Regions from separate parts of the Homo sapiens genome. Here regions 1, 2, 3, 5 and 6 are each reported to be linked to region 4. Evidence: microRNA targets listed by miRTarBase, many of them from high-throughput screens and not tested one by one. Region 4 holds a microRNA gene; each other region holds the end of a gene's coding sequence.

Evidence for each region. The annotated mature microRNA hsa-miR-122-5p reads UGGAGUGUGACAAUGGUGUUUG and lies in region 4 at 2,589-2,610, opposite strand. An mRNA with a match to its seed (bases 2 to 7 or 8) in the 3' UTR can be bound and repressed. Matches are read on the target gene's strand: a 7mer-m8 pairs with bases 2 to 8, a 7mer-A1 pairs with bases 2 to 7 and ends in A, and an 8mer does both.
Region 1: miRTarBase lists ZSCAN4 as a target of hsa-miR-122-5p. The part of its 3' UTR that is shown has no 7-base or 8-base seed match.
Region 2: the mRNA of MYCBP is a reported target of hsa-miR-122-5p. The part of its 3' UTR that is shown has no 7-base or 8-base seed match.
Region 3: the mRNA of CPA3 is a reported target of hsa-miR-122-5p. The part of its 3' UTR that is shown has no 7-base or 8-base seed match.
Region 5: miRTarBase lists VWC2 as a target of hsa-miR-122-5p. Seed matches in the 3' UTR shown: 7mer-A1 at 2,685-2,691, 7mer-m8 at 3,861-3,867 and 7mer-A1 at 4,656-4,662.
Region 6: the mRNA of WSB1 is a reported target of hsa-miR-122-5p. Seed matches in the 3' UTR shown: 7mer-A1 at 2,597-2,603 and 7mer-A1 at 4,132-4,138.

Annotation. Positions count from the first base shown.
Region 1 is chr19:57,677,480-57,682,991 of GRCh38, reverse strand. ZSCAN4 (zinc finger and SCAN domain containing 4) reads right to left here. Exons shown (of 5, transcript NM_152677.4): 4 at 4,913-5,078; 5 at 3,840-4,826. The coding sequence ends at 4,087. ZNF551 (zinc finger protein 551) reads right to left here and starts at 1,015. Exons shown (of 3, transcript NM_138347.5): 1 at 748-1,015. The coding sequence starts at 828. RefSeq lists a silencer at 575-644 and an enhancer at 700-1,323.
Region 2 is chr1:38,861,993-38,867,293 of GRCh38, forward strand. MYCBP (MYC binding protein) reads right to left here. Exons shown (of 5, transcript NM_012333.5): 4 at 4,888-5,017; 5 at 501-2,722. The coding sequence ends at 2,678. All of the region lies in intron 1 of RRAGC-DT (RRAGC divergent transcript), which reads left to right. GJA9-MYCBP (GJA9-MYCBP readthrough) reads right to left here. Exons shown (of 3, transcript NR_037637.1): 2 at 4,888-5,007; 3 at 498-2,722. Among named protein-coding and RNA genes, the nearest start is that of RRAGC-DT, 4.8 kb to the left of the region's middle.
Region 3 is chr3:148,896,484-148,899,483 of GRCh38, forward strand. It overlaps CPA3 (carboxypeptidase A3), which reads left to right. Exons shown (of 11, transcript NM_001870.4): 11 at 37-720. The coding sequence ends at 224. Among named protein-coding and RNA genes, the nearest start is that of CPA3, 33 kb to the left of the region's middle.
Region 4 is chr18:58,448,186-58,453,697 of GRCh38, reverse strand. MIR122 (microRNA 122) reads right to left here and starts at 2,624; the gene lies at 2,540-2,624. It overlaps MIR122HG (MIR122 host gene), which reads right to left. Exons shown (of 3, transcript NR_170245.1): 2 at 4,158-4,389; 3 at 2,417-2,879. It overlaps MIR3591 (microRNA 3591), which reads left to right and starts at 2,546; the gene lies at 2,546-2,618.
Region 5 is chr7:49,910,581-49,916,092 of GRCh38, forward strand. VWC2 (von Willebrand factor C domain containing 2) reads left to right here. Exons shown (of 4, transcript NM_198570.5): 4 at 1,454-5,512. The coding sequence ends at 1,605. It also overlaps a transcript of ZPBP not described here. Among named protein-coding and RNA genes, the nearest start is that of VWC2, 140 kb to the left of the region's middle.
Region 6 is chr17:27,310,409-27,315,920 of GRCh38, forward strand. WSB1 (WD repeat and SOCS box containing 1) reads left to right here. Exons shown (of 9, transcript NM_015626.10): 8 at 1,101-1,208; 9 at 1,802-5,512. The coding sequence ends at 1,961. Among named protein-coding and RNA genes, the nearest start is that of WSB1, 19 kb to the left of the region's middle.

The sequences.
Region 1 (5,512 bases), not on the chromosome of region 4:
AATAATTGTAGGTTCCTGAACTATCTTAGCCTCCTCTCCAAACTTAGCATATACTGGTAACTTTGCCTTGGACAACCTTCTACATCTCCTTTCCCCCGGCTGCCAACAGCTTCATATAATCTAACCTGGACTTAAGACTCTGGGCTTTGTATTTGCTCAAAGTCTCAGGGCCCAAGGCTAGACGAGTGGCGAGGCTCAGGTCGCCCAATGACCCTGGTCCAGTTTTGGAGCCAGGTGGCCTGGGCTGGCTGCACTATCTCCGCACCTCAGTTCTCAGTGCTGACTTTACCAGCTGCGTGAGCTTGGACAAGAACTCAGTCTTCCTATGCCTAACTACTATTACCTCTCTTCAGCCTGTTCTTCCCCTGAGCAACTTTTGGATAGCTTTAGGAAATCCTAGCCCAGTGTCCCTATCTGTTCACAAATCTCGAAGGCTGCCAGTGTCCTCAGAATCGTCAAATTCGTCAGGTGCAACTCTGCCTCACTCTATGTTCCTGCAGACCCGAGACGGACCCCAGGCTCCTGAATCCCCCCCAGCTTAGTCGCAGCTCCAAGTTCTGCACGCGCCAGTCAACTGCCCGTCACATTTCCGTACACACTGGGCGTCACAAACGGGTCCAATCCACAAGCGCCTTCTTGTCCAGGGTACTGGGGCCTGGGCTGCAGGGCTGTGAGCAGGCATCCCTCACTGGGCCTTAAGGCTTCTGCTGGGGGAGGTAGGCGAGACCCGGAGGACGCACAACTCACCTGAGCCGAGTCCCTCAGCGCGACTGCCGCCATTGAGCTCCGTGGACTAGGCGGGGAGCGGCGGCCGACCGGGGCGGGCATTCGAACACAACAGTCCCTATCCCGGGCCTGGCGCAGCTCACCCGAGGTGGTGTCGCAGAACCTCTGGCCCACTTTCGCGACTTCTCTGTCCCGTCCCTCAGTCGCGACCTCCACTGCAGAAACTGGCGGGCTGGACAAACAGGACAGAGGCCAAAATGACCGCCACGAGGAGGACGCCGGAAGTTCCGGCCCGTCGCGCTGCGCGTGCGCGGAAGTGTTGCTATCCTGGGCTGTCATTGGCTCAACTCCGCCGCCGTTTTGCGCTCTGCACTCTGGATAATGTAGTTTCCAAAACTCCACGGAGCTCTTCGGAGTGTGTCCACTGCTTTGACCTCTGCGAACTTGTATTCTGAGGTGCTGTGCCCCGTGCAGGGAAATGGCGACTTCGGCCTCTAGGGGAGAAGGAGGTATTTACTCCTTCTTAAAGGGGCTTTTCCCAGATTTCTGGGAAGTGTTTTCCGTAACTGATCACTTAAGTGTTTAGAGACATTATTTCAGACTCCACGAAGCTCAGGGTGCCCCTAGAGGCAAACAAATATTATTTCAGGGGGTTGGGCGCGGTGGCTCACGCCTGTAATCCCAGCACTTTAGAAGGCCGAGGCGGGCGGATCACCTGAGGTCAGAAGTTCGAGACCAGGCTGGCCAACATGGCGGAACCCCATCTCTACTAAAAATACAAAAATTAGTCGGGCGGGCCGGGCGCAGTGGTTCACGCCTGTAATCCCAGCACTTTGGGAGGCCAAGGTGGGTGGATCACGCGATCAGGAGTTCGAGACCAGCCTGGCCAACATGGTGAAACCCTGTCTCTACTAAAAATACAAAAATTAGCCGGGCATGGTGGCGAGCGCCTGTAATCCCAGTACTTGGGAGGCTGAGGCAGGAGAATCGTTTGAACCTGGGAGGCAGAGGTTGCAGTGAGTCGAGATCACGCCATTGCACTCCAGCCTGGGCGACAGGGGGAGACTCCGTCTCCAAAAAAAAAAAAAGAAAAAAAAAATTTGGATTTTGGAGCATTTTGGATTTTAGATTTTTGGCTCAGGGATATTCAACCTGTATTTTGTTCTCATTAAATAGGTTCCTCTTTCACTTTGTTATTGTTTGATATACTAAAGTTTTAATTTTCATGAAGTCTAATTGGTCTATTTTTCTTTTGTCACATGTGTATTTGGTGTCAAATCCAAGAAATTATGGCCAAATTCAATGTCATAAAACTTTCACCCTATATTTTCTTTTAAGTGTTTTATAGTTTTGGGTCTTATGTTTAGGTTTTTAGTCCATTTTGAGTTCATTTGTGTTTTTGGTGTTAGGTAAGGGTTCACCTTCATTCCTTAGCATGTGAATATTTCATTTTCCCAGCATCATTTGCTGAAAAGATCATCGTTTCCCCATTGAGTGGTCTTGGTAGCCTTGTTGAGATCATTTGACCATATACATTACTATTGCAAATGATATTGTTTTCTTAATTTCCTTTTCAGATTTTTCATTGTTAGTGTATGGAAGGGCATATGAGTTTTACATGTTGACTTTTGCATGTTGACTTTGAATTCAGCTACACAGGTGAATTTGTTTATCAGTTCTTTTTTTTTTTTTTTTTCCCAGACGGAGTCTCACTCTGTTGCCCAGGCTAGAGTGCAATGGCTTGATCTTGGCTCACCACAAGTTCCACCTCCCAGGTTCAAGCAATTCTTCTGCCTCAGCCTCCCAAGTGGCTGGCACTACAGGCGCCAGCACCATGCCCGGCTAATTTCTGTATTTTCAGTAGAGCGAGGGTTTTACCATGTTGGCCAGGCTGGTCTTGAACTCCTGACCTCAGGTGAGCCACTGCGCCTGGGCTTTTTTGTTTTTGTTCTTGAGACAGTGTCTTGCTCTGTCTCCCAGGGTGGAGTGCAGTGGCGCGATCTCAGCTCACTGCAACCTCTGCCTCCCGGGTTCAAGCGATTCTCCTGCCTCAGCCTCCTGAGTAGCTGGGGTTACAAGCATACACCACCATGCCCAGCTAATTTTTGTATGTTTAAATTAATCAAAGTTGCCAGCAAAAAAAAAAAAAAATATTAATTCCTCCCTTAGAAGTTACAATAAACATCTTTTTAAAATTTTTTTGAGCCTGTCACCCAGGCTGGAGTGCGGTGGTCTGTTCTCAGCTCACTGCAACCTCTGCCTCCCAGGTTCAAGTGATCCTCTCATCTCAGCCTCCCAAATAGCTGGGATTACAGGCGCATGTCGCCAAACCTAGCTAATTGTTTTTTTGTATTTTTTGTACAGATGAGGTTTTGCCTTGGTGCTCAGGCTGGTCTCAAACTCCTGGACTCAAGTGATCTGCCCGCCTCAGCCTGACAAAGTGCTGGGATTACAGGCATGAGACACTGTGCCCAGCCTAAACATCTTTAATCTAATTCGACCTTCAAATAACTACTGGATTGCTTCACATGTAATGCAGGGACCCTGTAACAGGACCTTTGGGGATGAATTCTTTAGTATTTGTGTGAGAAAAGCTTTATTCTCCTCCACCTTTGAAAGATAACATTGCTGGATATAGATGTTAGGGTGGGGTTTTATTTTTTGTACTAAATTTTGAACTTTCACTCCATTCCCTTCTTGATTATCTGGTTTCTGACAAGAATTCTACTCTAAATCTCATCCTTGTTCCTCAGCAGGTAAAGTGCCCTCTCCCACCTCCATCTTCTTTCAAGAATTTCTCTATCTTTGGCCTTCTGTAGTTTGAATATGATGTACCTAGTTGTAGGTTTTTGGTATTTACACTGCTTCCTCTTCTCTGAGATTTCTGGATCTGTGGTTTGGTGTCTATGATTAATTTTGGACCTCCAAGTGGAGGTTGCAGTGAGCCAAGATCACACCACGGCACTCCAGTCTGAGCGACAGATCAAGACTCTGACTCAGAAAAAAAAAAAAAAGCCGGGCACGGTCACTCACGCTTGTAATCCCAGCACTTTGGGAGGCCGAACCACTGCGGCCGGCCCCATCTCTTTTTTTAAAAAAGGATATCAACATTATGGATTCATTCATTTATTCAACAGAAATTTATTGGTTCTTGGAAATGTTCCACTTTCCCAACCACTTGGAATACTTTAGTGAACAAAACTGACAAATTCCATGCTCTCCTTAGCCTTACATTTTAATGAAGCAAGACAATAAATTGAAAGCATAATCAGGAGATTATATCTTATATCCTAAGTAGATAAATACTATAGGAATATACATACTTGCATACATATTTATACACATTATCAGACCAGCAGCTTAGGAAGCTTCTGGTGTGGAGGGAACACTTGGCAGGGTAATTTTCTCATGAGTCCTCATATGGCGGTGGTATGTGGATGACTGGCGGTAGCTTGTCTTACAAAAGGGACATGTATAAGGCTTTTCTCCTGTGTGGATTCTCTCATGAGACCGCAGGTTGGTTTTGTGGCTGAAGGACTTTTTACACATGCTGCATGTGAAAGGCTTCTTTCCTGTGTGAATTATCTGATGCACCCGTAGGTCTGATATCTGGAAGAAGCCTTTTTGACACTCGGGACAAACAAATGGCCTCTCATTCCTGTGTCTTCTCTGGTGAGCTAATAAGTGACAGAGATACTTAAAGACCTTGGGGCATTCTTCACATTTGTATGATTTTTGGACTCCATGGGATCCTTTCTGATGTACCTCACATGTGGAATTTCCCTCATTGCTCTGGTGGGTAAGGGCAGACTCAGGGGAGGACTGCTCTGGTTGAGAGATACACCCTGCTCCCATCACCATAGGGACACCTTGGAAAGTGATTCCATTTATGGACCCTTCCTGAGATCTAGCAGTGACTAGCTCTGCTCTTTTTGAGTTGTATGGGTTGTCAGAAGAAACACCTCCCTCTTCAGGCCTAGGACCGTTCTCTTCCTGGATGATGATTAGGGAAACTATTTGATTGCCTTGATTAGTAATATTTTCATTTACTCGAGTAGTTTTCGAAGAACTGTTCCAGCCATCTTGTTCATCTTCATATCCTGTGAAAATAGACACTCAATGAAGTTGTACTTAAGAAGGGGTCCACATAGAACACTCCTCAGTTGTGCAGATTCACCTGACTTACCTTGTCCTGTTTCTAAGGAAGTATCTTGGGAAGTCTGGGAGGGTGTCCCCATGTTTGCTTCTCTTGTGGTTTGGGCATTCACTTGTTTTGTGAGATGAACAATGACATCTCTTAAGGGCATATCCTCAGAAAAGAGAGCTTCCTGTCCCTGCATGTGGACGTGGACCTGTAAAGAAAGCCAGATCACTGTTGTATCTGAATCTGTTGTGTAACAGAAGACTTTTTGGAAAAGTGGTCCTTAACAGGCTCTCACAAGCTCCCTCAAGTATTGGCTATCACATATTTTGTCCACCATCTCTGATGGTGTTATTCTTGTTACTACAAGCTCTTATGTTTAATAAAGTCACATGGACATTGAATTTACAAGTACTGAATCATTTCCCCTAGGAAAAATTCAGGGTTAGTTTCCTGTGAGCTTCTGGCTACATTATTTTTGTCAACTGATCAATACATGAGTTTGTTTTATGTGTGTATATGTTCAAAGACACCCCATTTAATATATATTATTGATTAATCCTGAACTCAGAGGATCCAACACATGTATTATCTCCATAATACATAGCAACTTTCCTGCACTTAGGAAGACTAGACAGTGTTTCA
Region 2 (5,301 bases), not on the chromosome of region 4:
TTTTTAACTGCCACTTGCAGCTAGTGTGTACCAAATCGGAGAGCCCAGCCTTATATATTCAAATCCTCTATTGGTCACTCTTTATATGCATTCCAGCTTGTCAATATCCATCAAACATCTGACTCCTACAAAGCAATACTAAACAGTACAACTTTCAGAATGACCATTTAACACCTAGACAGTATTTCTATTCCTGCTTTCCAGAATGTAATTTTTTTTAAGCATCCATAGGGTGGGTCACATTGATAATCACTGTAACTAATACTTTGTCAGCAATCCTAGTGCCTAAATGTGTATAACTGCATTTTTTAACCTAAATGTAAGACTTGATACTTCAACTTTTTGGTTTAGGCCCAGCAGTTTGGGTATTCCACGTGGTTAATCATTTTAAAGCTTGTTTCAATATAGTCTTCCAACCAGACTTTCCAATTTGTGTCACTTACAGATTTGGCACTACCACCATCTGGTCTGTATGTAATCCTTTACAGTTTGCAAGGCACTTTTACATCCATTATATTTAATTTGATTCTTACAACCAACTTGTGAGATAGGCAAGATGTGAAGTCGATATTTTATAGACAAAGCAGCTGAAGCATAATAGGAGCTTAACTGGTGGGATCCATTTATCCATTTTCTCTTCCATGGAGCATCTTGTTGTATTCATCCAAATCCTTGACAGAAATGTTGAAGAGGACCTCTAGAGGCTAAGCTTATCCTGAATTCTTAAATAGCACTGACTGTTACAGTTTAAGCAAGTCAGTTTCACCTAAAAGTGTGATTATCCAACCCACATGTTGCCTTTCTGTTCAAAAAGGATGGTACCAAAGACAGTCACAGTCACCTGGCTTACTGACATAAATATTAATACTAATCAAATGAGTAAAAAGCCCATGAGGATTGGCTGCCACAAAAAATTTTCAACCTGTATCTACCAAGAAACTATCATACCAACTAAGGAAGCCAAGTCTCTCTCTCTTTCAAAACCCTCACGGGGCCATGCTTTATTATAATGGTCTGCCACAGGTCCTAACCCACACTGTATTTGATTATATACAGTCTCATAATTAAGTCATTCCTCTTTATCACACCCAGCACTTAGTCCACTGCTGCCCATGTAGGAGGCACTCAAATTGGTAAAAGAGAAATCTATGCAAGGGAATGATCTTCTGGACCCCCTCCAAAAACAAACTTGTGACTAGAAGAGGCACCAGCCATAGCCACATTCCTACTAACAGGGCTGATTTAAATGCCCTTTTTATTGGCTTGGTCATAGTCTCCAACAGGTGCCAAGGCTTTTGCTAGTTAAACCAGTTTTCATTGGATCATTTTGTTTTCTATGTGTGTTTTGACCAAAAACAAAGATAGGTTCTCTAACAACAGGGAGAGAATATATGAAATAGGAATATGTCTATAAAACGACAGTCTACCAGTAAGGAAAATAAGTGATCCATAAAACAAAACATCTGACTGTAGGTCTACCCAAAGAAAGGAAAAAGGACTAACAAACAAGAATATAGTGCTTTACCATTTACAAATCTTTCACATACATTCTCATTTGACCCTCACAACAACCCTGTGAGGTAGGCATCACGGACATTCTACTCATTAAACAGATGAAGACAGTAAATCTCAGAGTAGTTCACTGATAATGCCCAAGGCTCTACAGTTAGTGAGTGATTTGTATTAATATCAGTCTTTGGCCTAAAAATTCAGCACCCCTCTTCCCCTTATACTTGTCCCACCTACTTCACAGGGATAATGAAGATAAAATGAATTCAAGGCTAGAAAAATACTTTGAGGGAGAAAAGCACTATATAATTATACCTACAAACTATGATTTTCCCCAATATATGGCTCATTCCTCTTCTCATCTCAGCTTGTGTGTGAACCCAGAGTTGTATATTGCCTCTGTCCTGTGCTCAGTAAGCAAATAAGGCAGGCAGGGGGTACAGTGTGATCCTGTTTAAAGTTACATAAATTACAATCAGGGTAACTGCTATTATTAGGCAAATTGAAAAACAGCACAGAAAGGCCAGTGTGCAACTAGGACCCACTAAAGCTCAGAGGAAAGCAATGCAAGATTATCAGACAGGCATGATTGCATAGAAGGAAAATGTGGTGTCAGAGTTCAAACTGGCACACACACACACAGTTATCTAAGGCAAAGTGGTGGCAAAGAAGTTATTTGTTCCATGTCACACAAACAAGAGCAGAAGATTCATGGGAACCCGTACAAAAGCATCTTGTGTCACACAGATCTCTCCAGCTGCCTATAGGGAATATACAGAACAGTGTCACCTTCAAAGAATGACTGTACCTGTGTTCATATCCTGAACTGCACCAAGGAATAGCTCCATGCTAAACTGTCTTGGCTAAAATACAACCAGTGCCATCATTCCTAATCAGACTAATAAACAGAATGTCTTTTAAGGTAATGAGTTAGATGGCTGTGTTTAGGTTTTGTTCAGGATTTACTTTGGATTCTCCTGCTTTAAGACCCAAAGAAAGTTATATTGAGTTTTTATTGATGATTCTATGTGTTTTTAACAGAGTGTGATAGGTGAATTAAACATATTAAAAGAGTTCTATAGCATCTGTTCAGAAAAGATTATATACTATACAAACTATTCAAGTCATACAAAACCATTTTTCATTGTCTTTCAAACTGAGAAGAATCCTATTCAGCACGCTTCTCCTCCTGAGGTGGTTCATACTGAGCAAGCTATGGGGCAAAGACAGAGGAATTTAGGTGAATTTTATTCTAAATTGAGTAAAAAATAGTAAAACAAGGTAACTGTTATATTCAACTTAGTTACTGTCAGTAAATTGTATTAATATCAGTTTCTATAACTATCCATTTTAAATCATTCAGTGATTTAAGATTTAATACAATCAAATCTAATGAAAGCCCTTTTTATATAAACCTTTAAAATTGCTTTGAAACTAAAATTTCATTCCAGTTCATGACTGCACTGTTCAAATACTTGATATGCAATAAACTATATCTTCCCAAAGATTCATTTGCTTATAAGGAACTTTCTTCCTCTCCAGCAAAAGTTTACTGAAAATACCCACTGAAAAGTAGATAAAGAGTTAAGTGACATGTCTTAACTTAACCAGCCAATAAACAACTACTAATGTCTTTGAGTTAAAAGGTTCCAAAGAGTTAACTAGCACTACACATTGTGGAATCTTGGATAATTTAAAATAACTGCATTTTCTTTTATGCTAAGTGTGGTTCCTTGCAAGAACACTAGGCTAACATTAGGGTTCTGCCAACTACCTGTTGGAGTTGAGAAGCTTATTAGACTTCACTGTGCTTTCGTTTCCTCACCTATAAAGTGGCTTGTGTACTTGTTTCACTTATCTCACAAAGTTGTTGAGAAGATAAAATATATTATGAGAAATACTTAGAGTAATGTAAAATACATTATGTGATTAAGAATGTGGTAAGACCTGAAAGACTTAAGAGTTGACTAATTTGAAGTTCATGAAAATTCTCACAGGACTTTGAAAAAAGAAAAAACTGGCTGGGTGAGGTGGCTCATGCCTATAATCCCAACACTTCGGGAGGCCAGGCCAGGAGGAACGTTTGAGTCATGAGTTTGAGACCAGCCAGGGCAACATAATGGGACCCCATTTCTACAAAAAGTTTAAAAATTAGCCGAGCATGGTGGCAAATGCCTGCAGTCCCAGCTACTCAGGAGGCAGAGGTGGGGGGATTACTTGAGCCTGGGAAGTCAAGGCTGCAGTGAGACATGACTGCACCACTGCACACAAGCCTGGGTAACAGAGAACCTGTCTCAAAAAAAGAAAGAAAAAACTTTAGCACTAGATAAAATTAAGTCCTAACAAATTTACAGAGGGCCGCTACATATGGCCTTGCAAACTATGAACCATACAAATTCTAAGAAGTGCCATTTACAAAGCAGTCGCCCCATATTGGCCTACTTAAAATCAACTGCTTAAGAACCTCAGAACTGACCATTTACTTATAAAGAACATTAACCAATATTCTCATCCTTTTAGTAATACAGGTTCCTAAGAACCTCTTTTTTTTTTTTTTTTTTTTTGAGACAGAGTTTCATTCTTGTTGCCCAGGCTGGAGTGCAGTGGCACAGTCTCGGCTCACTGCAACTTCCACCTCCCGGGTTCAAGCAATTCTCCTGCCTCAGCCTCCCAAGTAGCTGAGATTACAGGCATGCACCACCAAGCCCGGCTAATTTTGTATTTTCAGTAGAGACGGGGTTTCTCCATGCTGGCCAGGCTGATCTGGAACACCTGACCGCAGGTGATCTGCCCACCTCAGCCTCCCAAAGTGCTGGGATTATAGGCGTGAGCCACCGCACCCAGCCAGAACCTCTTCTTGACCACACTTTGCTTCTTTGCTTGTCCTATTTCCAGTATGTCTTGCGGTTTTCTTTTTTTTTTTTTAACCCCCCTAGATGAAGTCTTGTTCTGTCACCCAGGCTGGAGCACAGTGGCACGATCTTGGCTCACTGGAACTTCCATCTGCCGGGTTCAAGCGATTCTCCTGCCTCAGCCTCCCGAGTAGCTGGGATTATGGGCACATGCCACCATGCCCGGCTAATTTTTGTATTCTTAGTAGAGACAGGGTTTCACCATGTTGACCAGGCTGGTCTCGAACTCTTGACCTCGTGATCTACCCACCTCGGCCTCCCAAAGTGCTGGGATTACAGGCGTAAGCCACCGTGCCAGGCCCGTCTTGTGGTTTTCTTGACAGGGCATAACTTTGGCCTTACATTGTAATTAATTCAAATTGATATTCACCCACCTCCCTCCCCTCCTGTCCATTTCAGTGAGGTTTTCATCATACAATTATTACAGGTAAAATTATTTGAATATGAATTCTTTTTAAAAATTTACCTTTGCTTTCAGTTTTTTATTTTCTTCTACAATAGCTTCATACTTCTCTTTCATTTCGGCCAGTTCTAGGCGAAGCAGCTCTATTTCTGGATTTTCTGGAGTAGCAGCTCCTAAGTGATGCTTTAAAAAACTATTATCAATGTTAAGAACTTACTTCTTAGACATGAATGAAACTAATGAAATAGCACAGAGTAGTATCAATATCCCTGACCAGAGTCACCCACTTTACCACCAATATCTACCCAGAGATCACCATCCAAAAACTCAAGTGAAACTAACTTTCTTGGCCAGGTGCGGTTGCTCACGCCTGTAATCCCAGCACTTTGGGAGGCTGAGGTGGGCACATCACGAGGTCAGGAGTTTGAGACCAACGTGATGAACATAGTGAAACCCCGTCTCTACTAAAAATAAAAA
Region 3 (3,000 bases), not on the chromosome of region 4:
GTCTCTAATTAAATATTTACTGCTTGTGTTTTACAGACCCGATATCAGGTTCTTCTTTAGACTGGGCTTATGACCTGGGCATCAAACACACATTTGCCTTTGAGCTCCGAGATAAAGGCAAATTTGGTTTTCTCCTTCCAGAATCCCGGATAAAGCCAACGTGCAGAGAGACCATGCTAGCTGTCAAATTTATTGCCAAGTATATCCTCAAGCATACTTCCTAAAGAACTGCCCTCTGTTTGGAATAAGCCAATTAATCCTTTTTTGTGCCTTTCATCAGAAAGTCAATCTTCAGTTATCCCCAAATGCAGCTTCTATTTCACCTGAATCCTTCTCTTGCTCATTTAAGTCCCATGTTACTGCTGTTTGCTTTTACTTACTTTCAGTAGCACCATAACGAAGTAGCTTTAAGTGAAACCTTTTAACTACCTTTCTTTGCTCCAAGTGAAGTTTGGACCCAGCAGAAAGCATTATTTTGAAAGGTGATATACAGTGGGGCACAGAAAACAAATGAAAACCTTCAGTTTCTCACAGATTTTCACCATGTGGCTTCATCAATTTATGTGCTAATACAATAAAATAAAATGCACTTAATGCTTTAAAATTCATCTTTTTATGATAAACTATATTCTCTGTATTTCTCTATAGCATTAATAATCAATATTAATGCCATTCATTCAGTCTGTTAATAAGAAATAATATCTTCAATTTTCAAAAACATAATTTGTCTATCTTTTTCTGATAGAAGTAGACATTGTTTATATCTTCAAAAAAGCAAAAGGATGTCCTAGCAGGAAATAAAGTGGTTCATATAGAGATGAATCTCAGTCCTTTAAATAACCGATCCAGTTCTCATCAGCATAATGTACATTAAATTCAAAATAGTTTAATTTAACCTGCCATAATCAGAAGAAACCACCTGCTAAAACATCTGTTTGCCGGTACAGACACAGACAAGACAGTCTGGTCAGCTGTGACCCCTGCCCTCCTAATGGATAGAAAGGAAACCTGGAAACATACTGTAAGTTGAGGACGGAAAGTCATGTTGACCAAAGGCAATCAGGGTAACTTGCTGCATTTGTACCATTTATACTCCTATTATTTAAGATAGTATTATTGGATAGCTTCTCCCCAACACCAATACCTCAATGTGTGATCAAGTGGCAACAGTGGCAGTGTCTACATTCCCAGAATCCAGACACAGATGCCCACCACAGGACTGACTATAATTTGAGGGACAAGTAGAGAGTTCCTTGACTTCCAGTAAACTTACTTCTCAGAACACCCCAGACAGTTTTCAACGACTGGGAAAGGTCCTGAGAAGTCAAGTCAATAAACAATCTGGGACATGCCTCATGAATCCTTTAGGGACACATAAAAGAAAGGATGGCATCAAAGCTACAAGATGATGGTGTGTTCTGATAGTCATGAGGTAGATAAAAGTTTCCCATGCAAAATTGTCCAGGAAAAGCAAATGTAAACTAACAAAATTGCTTTACAAGGGGAGAAGGGGAAGGTGACAGAGTCAAGAAACTAAAAGAGAAAAATGTGGCTATGAGATTATATTGTCTGATTAAAAATATGGTATCTATGTCTAAATATTTAGCATTCCAAACTAGCTTCAGAACGTGGGAATGTAAATTTGTTTCATTATACATGCCATATTGGAATTATATACTCATTCACACTTACTTACTCAAATGAGAAAGGACTGAAATATATTCTAACCCTAAAATTCATATAAATACCTCTAATTCCATTGAGCCTTTAGATGGAGGAGATAAAAGAGATAATCCCAATTGCAGAATATTATCCCATGTCCATCCATTATTCAGTTTATAAAGACACAAAAGTTGAACACACTATTTGAATTATTATGCAGCTTAATATTTTTTCTCAATCAGAAAAAAAATTAGCCTGAGTGGCTAAAAATAAAAAATCCTAACAAGATCTCATCCTAATTAAATAGTTTTTGAATGGCATCTGAGGGCATTTACTTCTTTCACTGCATATGAATTGTGAAAATAAATATGTGAAGACAAATATCTACATTAAAGTTAAAAAACTAAAATTTTACCTTATTTATGAGAAAGTTTGAGTGGCAAGTGCTGTGATTCTTCCCTTTTCATTTCTCATCTATCAGTAAAAGGGCTTTGTACCCAAGTTACAAGTTGTGCTATCACATAACAATATTCTTGACAGAGGCCAGGCACGGTGGCTCATACCTGTAATCCCAACATTTTGGGAGGCCAAGGTGGGAGGATCACTTGAGCCCAGGAGTTCAAGACAAGTCTGGGTGATAAAGTGAGACCTTATCTCTACAAAAAAATAAAAATAAAAAATTAGCCAGCTGTGATGGCACATACCTGTGGTCCCAGCTACTTGGGAAGTTGAAGCAAAAGGATTGCTTGAGCCCAGGAGGTCGAGGCTGCAGCGAGCCAAGATCACACCACTGCACTCCAACTTGGATGACAGAGCAAAACTCTGACTCAAATATACATATGCACACATACACACACACATACATATGTGTATGTACATAGATACACAAAATATATATGTGTATATACATATATACAAAATACATATGTAAATATATATATATCATCATTCATTTTCCAATTTTCTTGCTATAAAACTCACTCAAGAGGCATTGTTTCATATTTTGAAAATGTGTTCTTTTATAGCAATATCTAATTGTTGAGGTGCACATCTGAGATGTACATCTCTATTATGAAAAAATGAAACATCTTATTTTTACTTATGCAAATAAATGTTTCCAGTAAGTCTTATGACTCCAAACTGATCTTTAAATGTCATATCAGAGGTCCCTTCCCCACATTTGACACATTGGATATGTTCTTTGACCACAGAAGTGCTCATTGGCTAAGTGAACATTAGGCTTACTGACAAGAGTATCTGTTTCTCATTTAACACAAACATCTATGCCTGATTTTCTTTAGATGAAAAAATAAAGAAGTAACCCCCAAAGAAACTTAG
Region 4 (5,512 bases):
GAAGACCCAGTCCTCACATTGTCCCCGAGTCTGGGAACAGTTCAGAACCTCAAGACTCTGGGTCATTTGGTGCCACATCAGGTGGCTGGGTCATGTAGATGGCTGCTTGGTGTTGGGACAGTTTGTCTACCCTCTTCCTGACCCCAAAGCTACCACTTAGATGTTCCTTCTCTTTCATTTCATGATTACAGGGTTTTGCAATTTTCAGCTTTCTCTGCACAATGAACACTCACAAGGAGACATTCTTATATGGCTCATCCCTCTCTAATTTACAGGTTTTCCCTCAGAATCCACTGACAAAGCAGATGGGGAGATGAGGATATTGATCGCATACTGGCGTGATTAACCCAGGTTCTACACAGATTCGACTGTGAAGCATGAGATTTCACAAAATAACTAGGCCAAAGGAGGCTGCAGGTACAGGACAGAACTTTAGACTTAAGAGATCCATGTTGAGTTGTGGCTGGAGGACCAGACGATTCCAGAACCCTTTAGACTCTGTTTGTCAAACCGATCATCTTTGCCCCATGTTGTATGGATCAAATGAAATGGCATGTGATATGGTTTGGCTGAGTCCCCATCCAGATCTCGGCTTCAATTGTATCGCACAGAATTCCCACGTGCTGTGGGAGGGACCCAGGGAAAGGTAATTGAATCATGGGGGTCAGTCTTTCCCCTGCTATTCTCATGATAGTGAATAAGTCTCACGAGATCTGATGGGTTTATCAGGGGTTTCCACTTTGGCTTTTTCCTCATTTTCTATTGCTGATGCCACGTAAGAAGTGCCTTTCATCTCCCGCCATGATTCTGAGGTCTCCCTAGCCATGTGGAACTGTAAGTCCAATTAAACCTCTTTTTCTTCCCAGTCTCGGGTATGTCTTTGTCAGCAGCATGAAAACACAGACTAATACAGTGTGCATGAGCGTGATCTGTATAACAGTAGAGCCCTCTATTAATGCCTGTTCAATTAGAGCCTTTGCCAAAAAAATACACACAAAAAGGAATGTCAGTGTCTCAATTATTTCAGGGAGTCTGATTCTCTTCTTGACAGTAGATGGTGCCAGGAGGGAAGAAATGAGAGGTGGTAAGAGATGCAGGGCAGGCAGGGGTGCTCTTCTTCTTCTTTGGACAGAGGCATCTCATGACCTTGAAGCCTTTGTAGTGTATCATAAATGTGTGGGCTGCATTCAGGTGAGGCTTTCCAGCAAGGGACTCAGAATTATTTCGCAAAGTTTTGCTCATTTGGCTCCCGTTTGGAACAATTACAATGGTCCCAAAATATAATGCGAGCCAGTGAATGCCCATCTCTGGAAATAACATCAGACACATTTAATTTAAAAGTGTCTTCAATGCCTAGGACAGTGTCAGGCACACGGTAGTCTCTACACATATTTATTTCATAAGTGAATGGTTGAATGGTTGAATTTGTTTCTGATGGTTGATCTAACCCTGTCTATTTGATTAAACATGTCCTACTTCATTTAACCAAGCCTGGGGAGGGAAGCTTTAGTCTGGCACAAACGAAACCTACTCCTGACTTTAGACACCTCTCAGAGACAGAATGGGTTCCAAACCAGAGCACCTGGCTGGGCCAACTGTCCTAGAAACTGCATGGGTCCCAGATTTGCTATGGCAGCTCACACATGCTTCATAAACAATTTTCTGATGGTAATTCACTGATGCAAGAGGAAGAAAGGCCTAGTGTACGAATTCAGTAATCAGCCTAGTAATTGATTGAAATCAGTAGAAATCAAACATATTCTAGAATTTCTGAAACGTCAGTGAAACCATGTGTAAGTTTATTAGAAAGTTGGATTTTTTAACGACGAAAAGAGAAGGACCCACACACCTTAATTTTGTACCTATAAGCTTGCGGTCTGTCTGCATAACATAGATTTAGCCCAGTCTTAGCCTTCTGCGTCTAACACTTTCCTAACTATTCATTTTAAGTCTATAAGCATGGGTTAAATGATTACCTCGTGCCTGGCCTTGTGTTGGGGGCTCTGAGGAACTCTGCAATCTTTTTATTTTCATTTTTTGAGACAGGATCTTGCTCTGTCACACAGGCTGGAGTGCAGTGGTACCATCACAGCTCACTACAGCCTCAACCTCGTGGGCTCAATTGATCCTCCCACCTCAGCCTCTCAAGTAGCTGAGATTACAGGCACATGCCACCATGCCTGGCTAATTTTTGTAGTTTTTGTAGAGACACGGTTTCACCATGCTGCCCAGGCTGGACTTGAACTCCTGAGCTCAAGTGATCCGCCTGCCTTGGCCTCCCAAAGTGCTGGGATTTCAGGCGTGAGCCACCGTGCCTGGTCTGCAATCTTTTTATTGACTTGGGAAAACAAGAAAATTAATCACCAGCTAAGGTATGTAACAACAGCATGTGAGAGGCAGGGTTCAGCTAACCATATTGGTTATGAGTGCAAAAGAGCCAGACTTTATTCAGTAAGTACACAAGATTGAGAAGACTGATATCAGATGAACCTTCTTGCTCAAAGCAAACGATGCCAAGACATTTATCGAGGGAAGGATTGCCTAGCAGTAGCTATTTAGTGTGATAATGGCGTTTGATAGTTTAGACACAAACACCATTGTCACACTCCACAGCTCTGCTAAGGAAACTCTGTAGCCACGAAGGTGTTAACTTCACCTCCACATTCCACCATTGTCACTGATAATAGGGGAACCTTGTCAGCTCCACATATTGTGACCTAAGCAGAGAAAAGAAGCATCACGGGTACAAGCATCTTGAGCAATGGGAAGAGCTGAACACTCTCAATGAAAGGCTTCTGTGTTCTGGAACAGTAGAGTAGTAGAGGGGTCCACTGCCTGTGTTCCACTGCCACCCAGCAAACCCCTTCTGCAAAAACTTCCTGTGAAAATGGACAGGAACTCTGTTTGCAACAATTTTCTAAAATGGCTGAGAGAGAAAGAATCTCTAGAGGGAATAGATTTCTGGAAATAAATACTTATTGGAAGACTACATTATAAATGAGAATAATCTGGCCGAATGAATGGATACTCTCCAACTCTCACCTCTTCACCTACTTCCCAATCCATCATCAGTAAATGTGATCAATTCTGCAGTCTAGGAAAATTAAAATTATTTTATATGGGGATACAGCAGTTAGATGTGTTGTGATCTACTCTCCGTGGCATCTATTGGATATAAAGGCATCTGGTCTTGCTCAAATGTTCAATCTTCTTGACCACAGTCATTTTCCACCATGGCGGTGGGTGGGAGATGAGGGGAGAGAAGAAAGAGAGGAAGATGGAGAGAGAGGAAACGAGTCCATTTTTAGTTCATGATACTCATTTTCTAGCAAAAAGGGAGCTCCAAATAAATCCCTACAGGATTTACTTGGCTTTCCTGTTAAAGATGGTTTATAATTGTTATGTGAACTCCTGCCCACCATGGAGAATGAGAGGAAATAAAGCATTTTACCTACTCCTTCTTTTCCTGCAAATGCTGAAAAGGGAAAGGGTTGGGAGCCAGTTATTTTTTCCCCAGGATAACTGAGTTGTTAACATCTGACCAGAGTCTTGCTTTAGCCCTAAAACCGGCCCATCTTTAACAGCTGTAAATGAACCCTTCCGTATTTTTCAGAAAAAAAAAAAAAAAATTGCGCCTTATTCTCATGTAGATCCTGAAATCACCCTCTTCAAGCTGGACTTGCAGTGATTATCCCCCTGCGAAAGCTGAAAGTCGTTCTGCTCCCATGGGTTGGAGTGTTGAAGTTGCCTCTTTTTTTCTTTCCCTTTTTCACTTTGTGGATTCGTTATCTTCCCCTAAGTGACTGATTTCCTTTGGTTCCTGTCTGTGGCCCTGGCTTTCTTTCATGAAATGTGGTCATTTGCAAGGCAGCAGGCCGTGCCAGTGCTACACATACTCTCTTAGGTGGGACTCGCCTCCTGGGCAGTTTTCCATGACTCAGAGAGAATGACTACGAACCCTAGAACTGCTCTAGGTGGCCCCAGTCACTGCCACAAACCCCTAGCACTCTGGGTGTGGCCAGCAGTGGACACAGGCATGTGGTGGCCCATCTTGTCCTTCCCTTTCCCTACAGCTCCTCCTAACACAGTAGCCAGGCTTGTCCTGCTTAGTCTTTGCTGAGGGACCTAGAACAGAAATCGCCACCTCCTGGTCATACCAGGGCTATCGCTGACCATCCACAAGAGGCTCTAGAAGTCTCTTAGCTCTGCTGGGAAGAAACAGTGAGAGGTGAACAATTCACTGATTAAAAGGGTCCCCGGAGGATGCGCTTGGAGCGCTCTATCCTGGGCAAGGGCTTGGACCCATTTCACTTCTCAGGGCTCCATAGCAGTATCTGAGCATCCTCCACTTCTCCATGGGGGCTCTGTTGGCTTTTGGCTTTGAATAATCTGCAAAATACAGAAAAGGGAAGGAACAGATGGAAGATGAAAAGAGATGAGGAAGTTAATGCATTACAGGTAAATCTTACCAACTCCCCACCCCCCAAATCAACCTTTACAGGTAAATCTTACCAACTCCCCCCACCCCAAATCAACCTCAATTTCTATGGCCCAGAAATCTATCTCCAGGAAAATGTCAAAAATTTGTAGAAAGATTTACCTATAAGGTTGCTCATAGTGGCATTGTTTATAAGGGTAAACATTGGAAACAACCTAAATGTCCAGCTATAGGAGAAGAGTAATATATTTATGATAGACCATAATTATTTAAATTGATTCTGTAGAAAAGTCTGGTAGACTTGGAAATTCAAGATATGTTATTGAATTAAAAAACAGTTTATAAAACAATATACACAGTATGAGTCCCTTTCTGTGAAAAAATGCATACATGCCTGAGGCCAAAACATCAAATGTTAACCATGGTTATCTTTCAGTAGAGAAATTATGGTTTGTTTTCATTTTCTCCTTTTGTGTGCATTTGTTAATTTATGATTCATATGGCACTTTTTTATTGAGAAAAATGAGGATTTAAAAACTTTTAGGCAATTTTCTTTCTGGACTCTCAATACAAATTCCTTCTTGCAAAATACTCTTCTGAAATTGGGAAGGTTGGAACCCATCCTGCTCATATACAACTTGTCACAAGCATGAAAAGTTAGTGCTGTGCTGAGTGGCAGGCCTCAGGCTAATTTTTTAGCAAATTATTAGTGAAATACTTTATTATGCAGTACAATAATTTTATGGTATTATTGCATCAATCACTAAACACATATTGAGTGCCAATCATTTTCTGTCTTGTGAGCAATTTTTAAACATTGCTAAAATGGCCAACATCTTTTATTACTACTTTGTTTCTGCAGAGGTGGTTAAACTGTCAATTTACAAAGCAGTTTAAACAAACAAGCAGAAGGTTTTCTTTTTTTAAAAAAAAAAAGTCATCCAATAATATATCGCTAGTAAAATAAATTAAAAGTGGTTAGTGTCAGGATCCACTTTTGAATATTTTAAACATTCACAAAATAATTTCTCATTCTGCAGATTTTTAATGTTCTAGTATTTTCAAACTTAACAA
Region 5 (5,512 bases), not on the chromosome of region 4:
CATAACACAAAGCCATTAATCTTTTAAAAAAAAATGTGTTTTAACTAACGTTGGAACTCTTTCTGATACTCATCTCTCCATGTCCTTGATCTTAACATAAAGTGCAGATGTGACACATTTGTTGGCTGATATATTATAGCTGATATAGAATTGATTGAGAATTACAGAGATCCTCAATTCTCATGGAAAACTGTGAAAGATAGACTCCTGCAACACACTAAGATGGTGCTTCTCAAAGTGTATCCCCAAACAAGCAGCATCCACATCACCTGAGAACTTATCAAAGCAAATTCTCAGGCCCCAACCCAAACCTAGTGAATCACAAACTCTGCAAACAGTGTTTTCAACAGCCCTCCAGGCCATTGTAATGTATGGGAAAGTTTGAAAAGCTGCCCTCGGAGGCCTGGAAGGTATACTGAATTTATGTCACTTCAAGCAGTTTGCTTGTTTTAAGATATCTCTGCTGAAAGTGTCCTGAAGAGGACTGGTTCTTTGAAGGTCTTAGTTATGCTTTTTCTGTGAGTATTTAGAATTAATTAAACGAAATGGCTGCAGATTTTAGCCCCAAAATGGAAAAGTTAATGAAAGTCACAGTGTTGTCTCTTATAAAAATTTTAAATGGGCTGGGAGCGGTGGCTTACACCTGTAATCCCAGCACTTTGGGAGGCCAAGGCGGGCAGATCACGAGGTCAAGAGATCGAGACCATCCTGGCCAACATGGTGAAACCCAATCTCTACTAAAAATACAAAAATTAGCTGGGTGTGGTGGCACGCCCCTATAGTCCCAGCTACTCTGGAGGCTGCGGCAGGAGAATCGCTTGAACCCCGGAGGCAGAGGTTGCAGTGAGCCGAGATCGTGCCACTGCACTCCAGCCTGGTGACAGAGCAAGACTCTGTCTCAAAAAAAAAAAAAAAAAAAAAAATTAAATGGCATTGGTTTCATTTCAGAACAAAAGTAGAGTATTTCATTATTACTGAAATTATAACTTTGCCACTGTCCTTCATAAAAGAAACTGAATAAAATATGTACCATTGGCCGGGTGCAGTGGCTCATGCCTGTAATCTGAGCACTTTGGGAAGCCAAGGTGGGTGGATCACTTGAAGTCAGGAGTTCAAGACCAGCCTGGCCAACATTGTTAAACCCCATTTCTACAAAAATTACAAAAACTAGCTGGGTATAGTGGCATGCCCCTGTAATCCTAGCTACTTGAAAGGCTGAGGCAGGAGAATTGCCTGAATCCGGGAGGCAGAAGTTGCAGTGAGCCGAGATCGTGCCACTGCACTCCAGCCTGGGTGATAGAGCAAGACTCTGTCTCAAAAACAAACAAACAAACAAATACACGCACACACACACACACACACACACATATATATACTGTAATGCTTAATACCTAATTATATATATTATATATTTATGCACACATATAGTATAAAACATTTTTCTGCATTTCAGGTCCAAACTGCTTTGCAGAAACCGCGGTGATCCCTGCTGGCAGAGAAGTGAAGACTGACGAGTGCACCATATGCCACTGTACTTATGAGGAAGGCACATGGAGAATCGAGCGGCAGGCCATGTGCACGAGACATGAATGCAGGCAAATGTAGACGCTTCCCAGAACACAAACTCTGACTTTTTCTAGAACATTTTACTGATGTGAACATTCTAGATGACTCTGGGAACTATCAGTCAAAGAAGACTTTTGATGAGGAATAATGGAAAATTGTTGGTACTTTTCCTTTTCTTGATAACAGTTACTACAACAGAAGGAAATGGATATATTTCAAAACATCAACAAGAACTTTGGGCATAAAATCCTTCTCTAAATAAATGTGCTATTTTCACAGTAAGTACACAAAAGTACACTATTATATATCAAATGTATTTCTATAATCCCTCCATTAGAGAGCTTATATAAGTGTTTTCTATAGATGCAGATTAAAAATGCTGTGTTGTCAACCGTCCTCACCGTGTACCTGCATATCTTTTTCAGTTCTGATTCCATCACCCAGGAATGTTCCCCCTGCACATTTTCACAGGGCAGAGTCACGCATGAATGGATCATAAGATATTAGGACCAATTTCCACTGAAACCCTGTTTAAATTCTATTTAATTACAGACATATCTCTAATGTTGATGTCTACTTCACATAAATATATTTCCTTTTTATAATAATATATGGCTTTTATCTGCTTCATTCTCAGTCACTTGTGAAATGCAGGTGTAAAGATCACTAACTCACACTTTCTCAGTTCTTTCCCCTAAGCTCCTGTATTGTACACCATAGGTAAGCACATACATATATTTCATTCTTATTTACATTATTTTCTCTTCTAAGGATAACTTTAATTCATTCCCTAAACTGAGGAATAAAGTAGGCTGGAAAATTTGCATTACTGTTCCATCAAGCTGAAGCAGACAACAAAATAGGGGAGGAGTCCTTCGATTCTCCTAGGATAGTTAAGGAAAATCAAACTCCTAAACAAGTTTATATACCTGAAATCTAAATGTGCTACAGATAACTCAGCTGTCAGTTCAGTGGAATCATATTTGTCATCAGACTTGAGTCATCTATCCTCCATAAACTACACAGTAAAATCTTGACTGATAACCTTGAATTAGCCACCCTTCACAAGCAGAGTGAGGAAGCAGTTATTTTGTTAAAACAAAGCTGAAGACCAAGTGCACTCCACAACTTTCCTATAGTTATAATTCCAAACCAACTTCTTTTCTCTTCATTTGAACAGAGAACATAAAAAGCCACTGCAAAGTCCTGCTAATCTAATTAATGCATAATAGAAAATAGTTCTACCTTTATCAATCATATCAGCATGCGGTGTGTTGATGAAAGAGGTAATTGGAGTCTTAATAGGTGTAGGATAAAAAAAGCAAAACTATAATCACTATTAATGTCTTTAAAGGATTAAAATATATATAATCATTATTTGAAGCCTCTAAAGGTATTTTTCATATTTTTGTTTATTCTGAAATTTTGCATTAAGAACCTATTAAGTACAAAGCATTGACAACAAGGGAATAAGGCTTGATTTCTTGCCTTCTTGGACTTTCGGTCTCTGGCATAAGAAGTATATGAAATCATAATGTATTGTATTAGGAGCCAAACTAGAGACCAGCAAATGGAGATTAGAAAGCCTTCCTAATGAGAAGATGGAGAACATGAAAAAATCATTATATAAAAAATAATTCAATCATTAAAGACTGAATAACATTCAAGAAAAATGGATACATCTATCATAATTGAAAAATTAAACTATTGTGAACCTTAGTAAGTATAAAGATGCCACTGACTGAGTCATCAAAACACTACATATAGTCATTTAATTTTTGTCTTGTTCATAAAGAACACCTTGAGCCAAAGGAACTACCAGTACATAGATTTCATGAAAATACTCAGGGGAATTATTAGCTAATTGTTCTCAGGTGTAATCAGCTTTCCAAAATTTAACCTTTGTATTAAAGACTGGTAGACATTGGCCATCCCTCCTTTATTCAAGGATGGATTGTTTGAGACACAGTTATTTAAAGTTGTCGTTTTGCTAATAAATGGCCCTAGCCCCCATGGGTAGGTGGGCCATTAGTAACCTCTTCTCTCTCCATCAGGCATGATGCAGTTAGAGACTCAGTCCATGCAGCTCAAAGTCTTCCTGTTTCCCTTAATAATAATTCCTACCAGAATGGATGATGAGCTCTGAAATAATTGCAATGGTGTTTTCAATGCTGTGAGAATTTCAGAAAACCTAGTATTTTGTTGCATATAGAGAGAATGAACCCAGTATCATCTTGGGAAGTTAACTGACTCACTTGCTCTAAACTTAGTTTGACCTGCAGGGTCACCAGCACACACTCCTAAGAGCTAAAGCTCAATGGCTGTTATTACACCAAAGTAACTCCCCTCCCCATCTCTGATTTCAACCCCCTCATTCCTCTCTCCTCATAGAAATAATGCATAAACCAAACACATGGAAGAACTTGGATTTTTGACACTGTATATACTCATTAATAATAATGGCATTATTTGCATTTTTGTCCAAGATCAACTTCTTCTTGCAGTTAGACTTTCACAAATACATAGCTATCTCAGATTGACATTCTATTTTCCTCCCCTCTGTTGTCAGAGAACTCTTTGCTGAGATTGTCAACAACAAACTGTTCTATTCAATAAATAACCTGAATAACTGCCCAATAAAAAAGGAAAGTATAAGTTACTCAATTTCAAAATAATATGGTTTGGAGATAGCACAGAAAAGGGGGCCTCAGAATTCAAGTATAGAAGTTCTGGAAAAGCCATAATCACTAAAATTCAAATAGGCCTGCTCTATAAGTACCTAATAATTGTTAAATGATTTGTTCAAGTTAATAAACTAAATCGTGCTTACAAATGTATTAATGAATTTATTTCAAATTTTCAACCCATATTTAGATCTGAAAGTATAAAGCTACTTATGTAAGCAATAGAATGGTTCTGGAAATTATCTGATGTCTTAGAGGTTTTCAAGTTAAATTCATTCTTTCAGTGATAGGATATTTACTTGTTGGGTGGATTAACAATACTTTTTATTGACATTTCCCAGAAGTCTTGAGAAAAGTCATTTCAAAAACTTGTATTTCATCCCTGCATGCAAGAAGTATTAGATGCACTCCAGTCCAGGCAAGTCCTGCTATAATGTTGCAGCTAGTGCAGATGGAGAGGCACAGTGTCCTTGACATCAAGGGGTCTGTAAGCCTTGAAACTAATTTAGGTTTGATTATAATACTTTTAATCTTTTGATACTTAGAATTTCATCACCTGCTTTGTGCAGTAAAACATGCTAAGAAGAATTATCATGCAGTTTTAAGTTCATAACATCAATAATATGTTTAATAAACTTTCTTCCCTCGTTCTCCAACATAAATGTTGCATTTATATAAGGTTAAAAGTCCTAAAAAATCATAAAATTCAGATGTTTAATTTTTGTTTTTAAGCAGTGAAATGGGTTTTTAAATGTATACATTATCTGAAACTTACAAAATATACACTGTTTCAAACAAGCATTGTTGGAAACTAAATCCATTATTTTAAATGTGGACTATTTAAACATGTAGAAAACAAAATTATAGACATAAACTATGATTTTAAAAATATTAACAATTTGCTAAATTTGCTTCAATGGGCAAGAGATCAATCCTACTTTTCATTGTTATTTTTAATATCATATTTTTCCCCAACATAATGTTATTATGAAGAGTATCAGATGTACAAATAAGCATCATTGGTAAAAACATACATGCTTCTTTGGCCAACATAATTTGTAACTGTCTTACTGAACCTACTTACCTACTATATTTTTTTTCCTCACTAGTAGCATCTGATGGTTGATACAGTCAGTAACTATTCTGAAGAATCAGATTAAGAGAGAACAATTTACTTATTCAGGAATAAGTGCATTTTTACAGTACATATTTTTCACATTTCAGCTGCAACTTCCAAAGATCAGGTTCTCATTGCTCCGTAG
Region 6 (5,512 bases), not on the chromosome of region 4:
AGTCAGCTTTTAGCCCAGCTTACAGAGATTTTTTAAAGTAATGTCTTAACAAAGGTTGAAGCAGAAGGAAATTTCTAAAGTGAAACAAATAGTAAAACCAAAAGAATTACAAATAAATAGTAATTTGTATCCACCATGATTGAGATTAGAATATGAAATGTCACATGAATGATATGTGCTGCTTGTTGGTAAGAAGCAGAAACTAGTTGCAACCATCTGTGTTCATGCATATAGCATTGAGTAGTTCGGTGACGTCAATTCATAAGGCAGCTCTTCTCTTCCCAGAATGTTAGCAAACATATGGAGAGAGGTTTTTTTTGTTTGTTTGTCTGCAACCATTGTTTCCTGTTTGCTCAGATAGATTCTGCATGTTAGTTCTCTGCTGTATTTGTAGACACACTCAGCCTGGGTGAAAAGCTTTTTTTCCTTTCCTGGTTTTTTTTGTTTGTTTATTGGAGACAGGGTCTTGCTTTGTTGCCCAGGCTATAGTGCAGTGGTGCAATCACATCTCACCACAGCCTTGATTTTCTGGGCTCAGGTGATCCTCCCACCTCAGCCTTCCGAGTATCTCACACCACAGGGGTATACCACCACACCTGGCTAGTTTTTTTAAAAAATTTTTTGTAGAGACAGGGTCTCCCTATGTTGCCCAGGCTGGTCTTAAAAGTCCTGGGCTCAAGCAGTCCACCCACCTCGGCCTCCCAAAGTGGTGGGATTATGGTTGTGAGCTACCAGGCCCACCTAGCTTTTAAAAATGTCTTGGGAAAAGGGTGAAACAGACTAGAAGTTGATTGTATTGTAAGTGTAGGAAAGTAAGGAGAAAGTTTCCGGGTGTGAACATTCTAGGTTTGAACACTGGGAAGGAGGGAAGGCAGCCATGCATTGTAGTCTCTTAAGTGAAAGTTTATCCAATTTACCAACTGATATTATAGACCTTAAAATATTTTGTAATTGTATAAAGCAAGTTATTATAATTGCCTGTTGGTGTGATGTGTGTATTTTGTGACTCATAACTCAATGGCATTTCTTTCTAAATTTTAAAAAAGTTGCTTTTACCTTACATTTTCTACAAGATACTAAATAATTTATTTCATTTTCAGAATGGTGAGGTTCTGGAGAATTGATGAGGATTATCCAGTGCAAGTTGCACCTTTGAGCAATGGTCTTTGCTGTGCCTTCTCTACTGATGGCAGTGTTTTAGCTGCTGGGTAAATATATTTTTCTCTTTTTTTTTTTTTTTTTTTTTTTTTTGAGATGTAGTCTCCCAGGCTGGAGTACAGTGGTGCAATCTCTGCTCACTGTAGCCTCCGTCTTCCAGTTCAAGGAGATTCTCCTGCCTCAGCCTCCCGAGTAGCTGGGACTACAGGTGCACACCACCAGTCCTGGCTAATTTATTTGTTTGTTCGTTTTTCCAGTAGGGTCGGGATTTCACCATGTTCGCCTGGCTGGTCTCAAACTCCTGACCCTGACCTCAAGTGATCTTCCCGCCTCAACTTCCCAAAGTGCTGGGATTACAGGCGTGAGCCACCACACCTGGCCCATTTTTCTCTTTTCTTTAAGGGCCAATTTAAGGGGGCTTTTAGCAGCTAGTAATTTATTGTCAGTAAAACTCTAATAAGTGTTCTTCATAGTAGTGTTACCTTGTCATGGAATACATCATTGGTTAGTTCTTCCTGGTTGGGTTTTAATGTGAAGTTTGTGACTCCACTACTCACATGTATTGGGTGATAGTTGTTTGAGCTGTAGCAACACTGAAATACATATACTTGGGTGACTAAGCATGTGCTTTGTTTCTGTTTAGGACACATGACGGAAGTGTGTATTTTTGGGCCACTCCACGGCAGGTCCCTAGCCTGCAACATTTATGTCGCATGTCAATCCGAAGAGTGATGCCCACCCAAGAAGTTCAGGAGCTGCCGATTCCTTCCAAGCTTTTGGAGTTTCTCTCGTATCGTATTTAGAAGATTCTGCCTTCCCTAGTAGTAGGGACTGACAGAATACACTTAACACAAACCTCAAGCTTTACTGACTTCAATTATCTGTTTTTAAAGACGTAGAAGATTTATTTAATTTGATATGTTCTTGTACTGCATTTTGATCAGTTGAGCTTTTAAAATATTATTTATAGACAATAGAAGTATTTCTGAACATATCAAATATAAATTTTTTTAAAGATCTAACTGTGAAAACATACATACCTGTACATATTTAGATATAAGCTGCTATATGTTGAATGGACCCTTTTGCTTTTCTGATTTTTAGTTCTGACATGTATATATTGCTTCAGTAGAGCCACAATATGTATCTTTGCTGTAAAGTGCAAGGAAATTTTAAATTCTGGGACACTGAGTTAGATGGTAAATACTGACTTACGAAAGTTGAATTGGGTGAGGCGGGCAAATCACCTGAGGTCAGCAGTTTGAGACTAGCCTGGCAAACATGATGAAACCCTGTCTCTACTAAAAATACAAAAAAAAAAAAAATTAGCCAGGCGTGGTGGTGCACACCTGTAGTCCTAGCTACTTGGGAGGCTGAGGCAGGAGAATTGCTTGAACCCAGGAGGTGGAGGTTGCAGTAAGCCAAGATCACACCACTGCACTCCAACCTGGACAACAGAGCGAGACTCCATCTCAAAAAAAAAAAAAAATTGTGTTGCCTCATACGAAATGTATTTGGTTTTGTTGGAGAGTGTCAGACTGATCTGGAAGTGAAACACAGTTTATGTACAGGGAAAAGGATTTTATTATCCTTAGGAATGTCATCCAAGACGTAGAGCTTGAATGTGACGTTATTTAAAAACAACAACAAAGAAGGCAGAGCCAGGATATAACTAGAAAAAGGATGTCTTTTTTTTTTTTTTTACTCCCCCTCTAAACACTGCTGCTGCCTTAATTTTAGAAAGCAGCTTACTAGTTTACCCTTGTGGTATAAAGTATTATAAATTGTTGTGAATTTGAAGAATCCGTCTACTGTATTATTGCTAAATATTTTGTTTATACTAAGGGACAATTATTTTAAGACCATGGATTTAAAAAAAAAAAAAAAAACTCTGTTTCTGCAGGGGATGATATTGGTGAGTTGCCAAAGAAGCAATACAGCATATCTGCTTTTGCCTTCTGTTGTTTATCTTACCTGCAGATATTAAGAATGTATGCATTATGTAAAATGCTCAATTATATATTTTTGTTGAGTTTTTTAATTAAAGACTTGTAAAAAAAAAAAACAGTATATTGCAAATGTTTCTTAAATAGGTTAGGTGGAGTACTTTCTCTCTGTCTCCATTGTAAGGTTGATGGTACACCACAGGCAAATTAAGCAAAAAGGACAATGAAGAAAGAATGCAGGACTCAGGCGCTGCTCTAGAATTCATTCAGGGCTCCCCGAGTGCAGCAGCTCTTATGGTGGTTTTGTTTTTAGGAGAACTGTTGTAATAATGCATATTTTAAAAGCATAGGGAAGCTCTAGAACACAGGAAGGTGACTACTAAGCAAGAGAAAAGTATCTTTTAGTGGGGAACTACCAGCCTATAGTAAGTCTATCTGGTTAAAGTAGTTATTATGAAAATCTAGCAGTCTGGGTCCTTTGAGAAGGCATTAAAAAAGCAAAACTCTTATGAGCCATGTGTGATTTTGAAGACTCATTTCCACTGAGAAATTATTTGGAAGTTCCTATGGTTAGCTCTGTTAAGGAATGTAAAAATTTATAGGGGGTGTAGGGTTATCAATTTGAAAGCCAGTAGAAAATCTGCTCAAGTTACTTCTTGAGGATCATCTGTATTTTACAAAAAGAAGCACAAGAAGCATCTAATCTTTATACTTCTTGTGACTTTTTTTCCCCTGCATTTTACTTTGTAATATATCGGCTTTATAATTTTAAAATACACTGGCCGGGCGCAGTGGCCCACACCTATAATCCCAGCACTTTGGGAGGCCAAGGCAGGTGGGTCACTTAAGGCCGGGAGTTCATGACAAGCCTGACCAACATAGTGAAACCCCTGTCTCTACTAAAATTACAAAAATTAGCTGGGCATGGTGGTGGGTTCCTGTACTCCTAGCTACTTAGGAGGCTGAGGCAAGAGAATTGCTTGAACTGGAGAAATGGAGGTTGCAGTGAGCTGAGATCACGCAACTGCACTCCAGCCTGGGTGACAGAGTAAGACTCTAAATAAATAAGATACCATTACTTTTCATATCATTGCATTATTTTTGCTTTCCACACCAACATATCCAGTCAAGTAAAAACAGCTTTTTTTATTTTTTATTTTTTATTTTTTTTGAGACGGAGTCTCACACTGTCACCTGGGCTGGAGTGCAGTGGTGCGATCTTGGCTCACTGCAGCCTCCACCTCCTGGGTTCAAGCAATTCTCCTGCCTCAGCCTCCCAAGCAGCTGGGATTACAGGCGCTCCCCCACCACGCCCAGCTAATTTTTGTTGTATTTTTAGGACAGACGGCGTTTCACTGTTGGCCAGACTGGTCTCAAACTCCTGACCTCGTGATCCGCCCGCCTCGGCCTCCCAGAGTGCTGGGATTATAGGTGTGAGCCACCGAACCTGGCCCAAAACAGCATTTTTGGAAGCTACATTCTGTGAGATGTTCACCTGTTTGCCACCTCTTCTCGTGAAAACCATAGTGAGTGCCAGTGTGAAAGGAAGATTGCAGCGTATATGTCAAGTAGAAACATGTTTGAATTTTCCATTTGTCTGTGGGGAAGAAGGTAATAACAGTAATAACAGACTGAAGGACCAAAGGAAAATAGGGAAGACGTTGATTATGGACTTGGATCAGATTCTAGCTACATGATTTGAAAATGACACTGCCTCTCCTATTTTGCCACAAGCCTGTCATTTGGAGAACTGGCAGATCATTTATGTTCAGATTTAATTTTCTGTTTTAGAATCCCATGGAGTACATGTGAACATAGGAAAATCACACTCAGCAGCCAAGCTATCCTTTTGCGATAATGAAATCACTTTAAAACCTATAACTTGATCTTAGGTTGGCAAATCTTAAACTTAACGATCCTTGAAATTTCCTGCCTGCTGTGACTGTGATGCAGTTGGATTCAACTGGTTTACACTGCTCTTGGGTCGGCAAGACCAAAAAAGGTTGGACTGCACTGTAGCATGCTTATGGGTTGAGGCAGTGGCAGAGGCAGAGGACTTGGCCGTCAGCCAGCCAGCACAGGCGTAAGAAAATAGCATGAGAAGTTTCACGAGCCTGAAACCATTGAGACAGTGATTACAACCTCCATATTAATCAGATGAGGGTTTGTAGGTGACATAGCATTTTACCCAAGTAATTCTGAACAGACTGTGGCTTATGATAATACATTTTAACTAGCAAGTGTGTGGACTATAAAACAAATATCTAGAGTTATATATGGATGTACTATCATTTGGTGATAAAAGCATAGAAAAAGCATAAGTTGGAGTATACTGGGTTTTTTTGTTGTTGTTAAATTCTTTTCCATCAGAAGTAAGAGCTGTTGGCAGCAACTAATAAAATGCAACC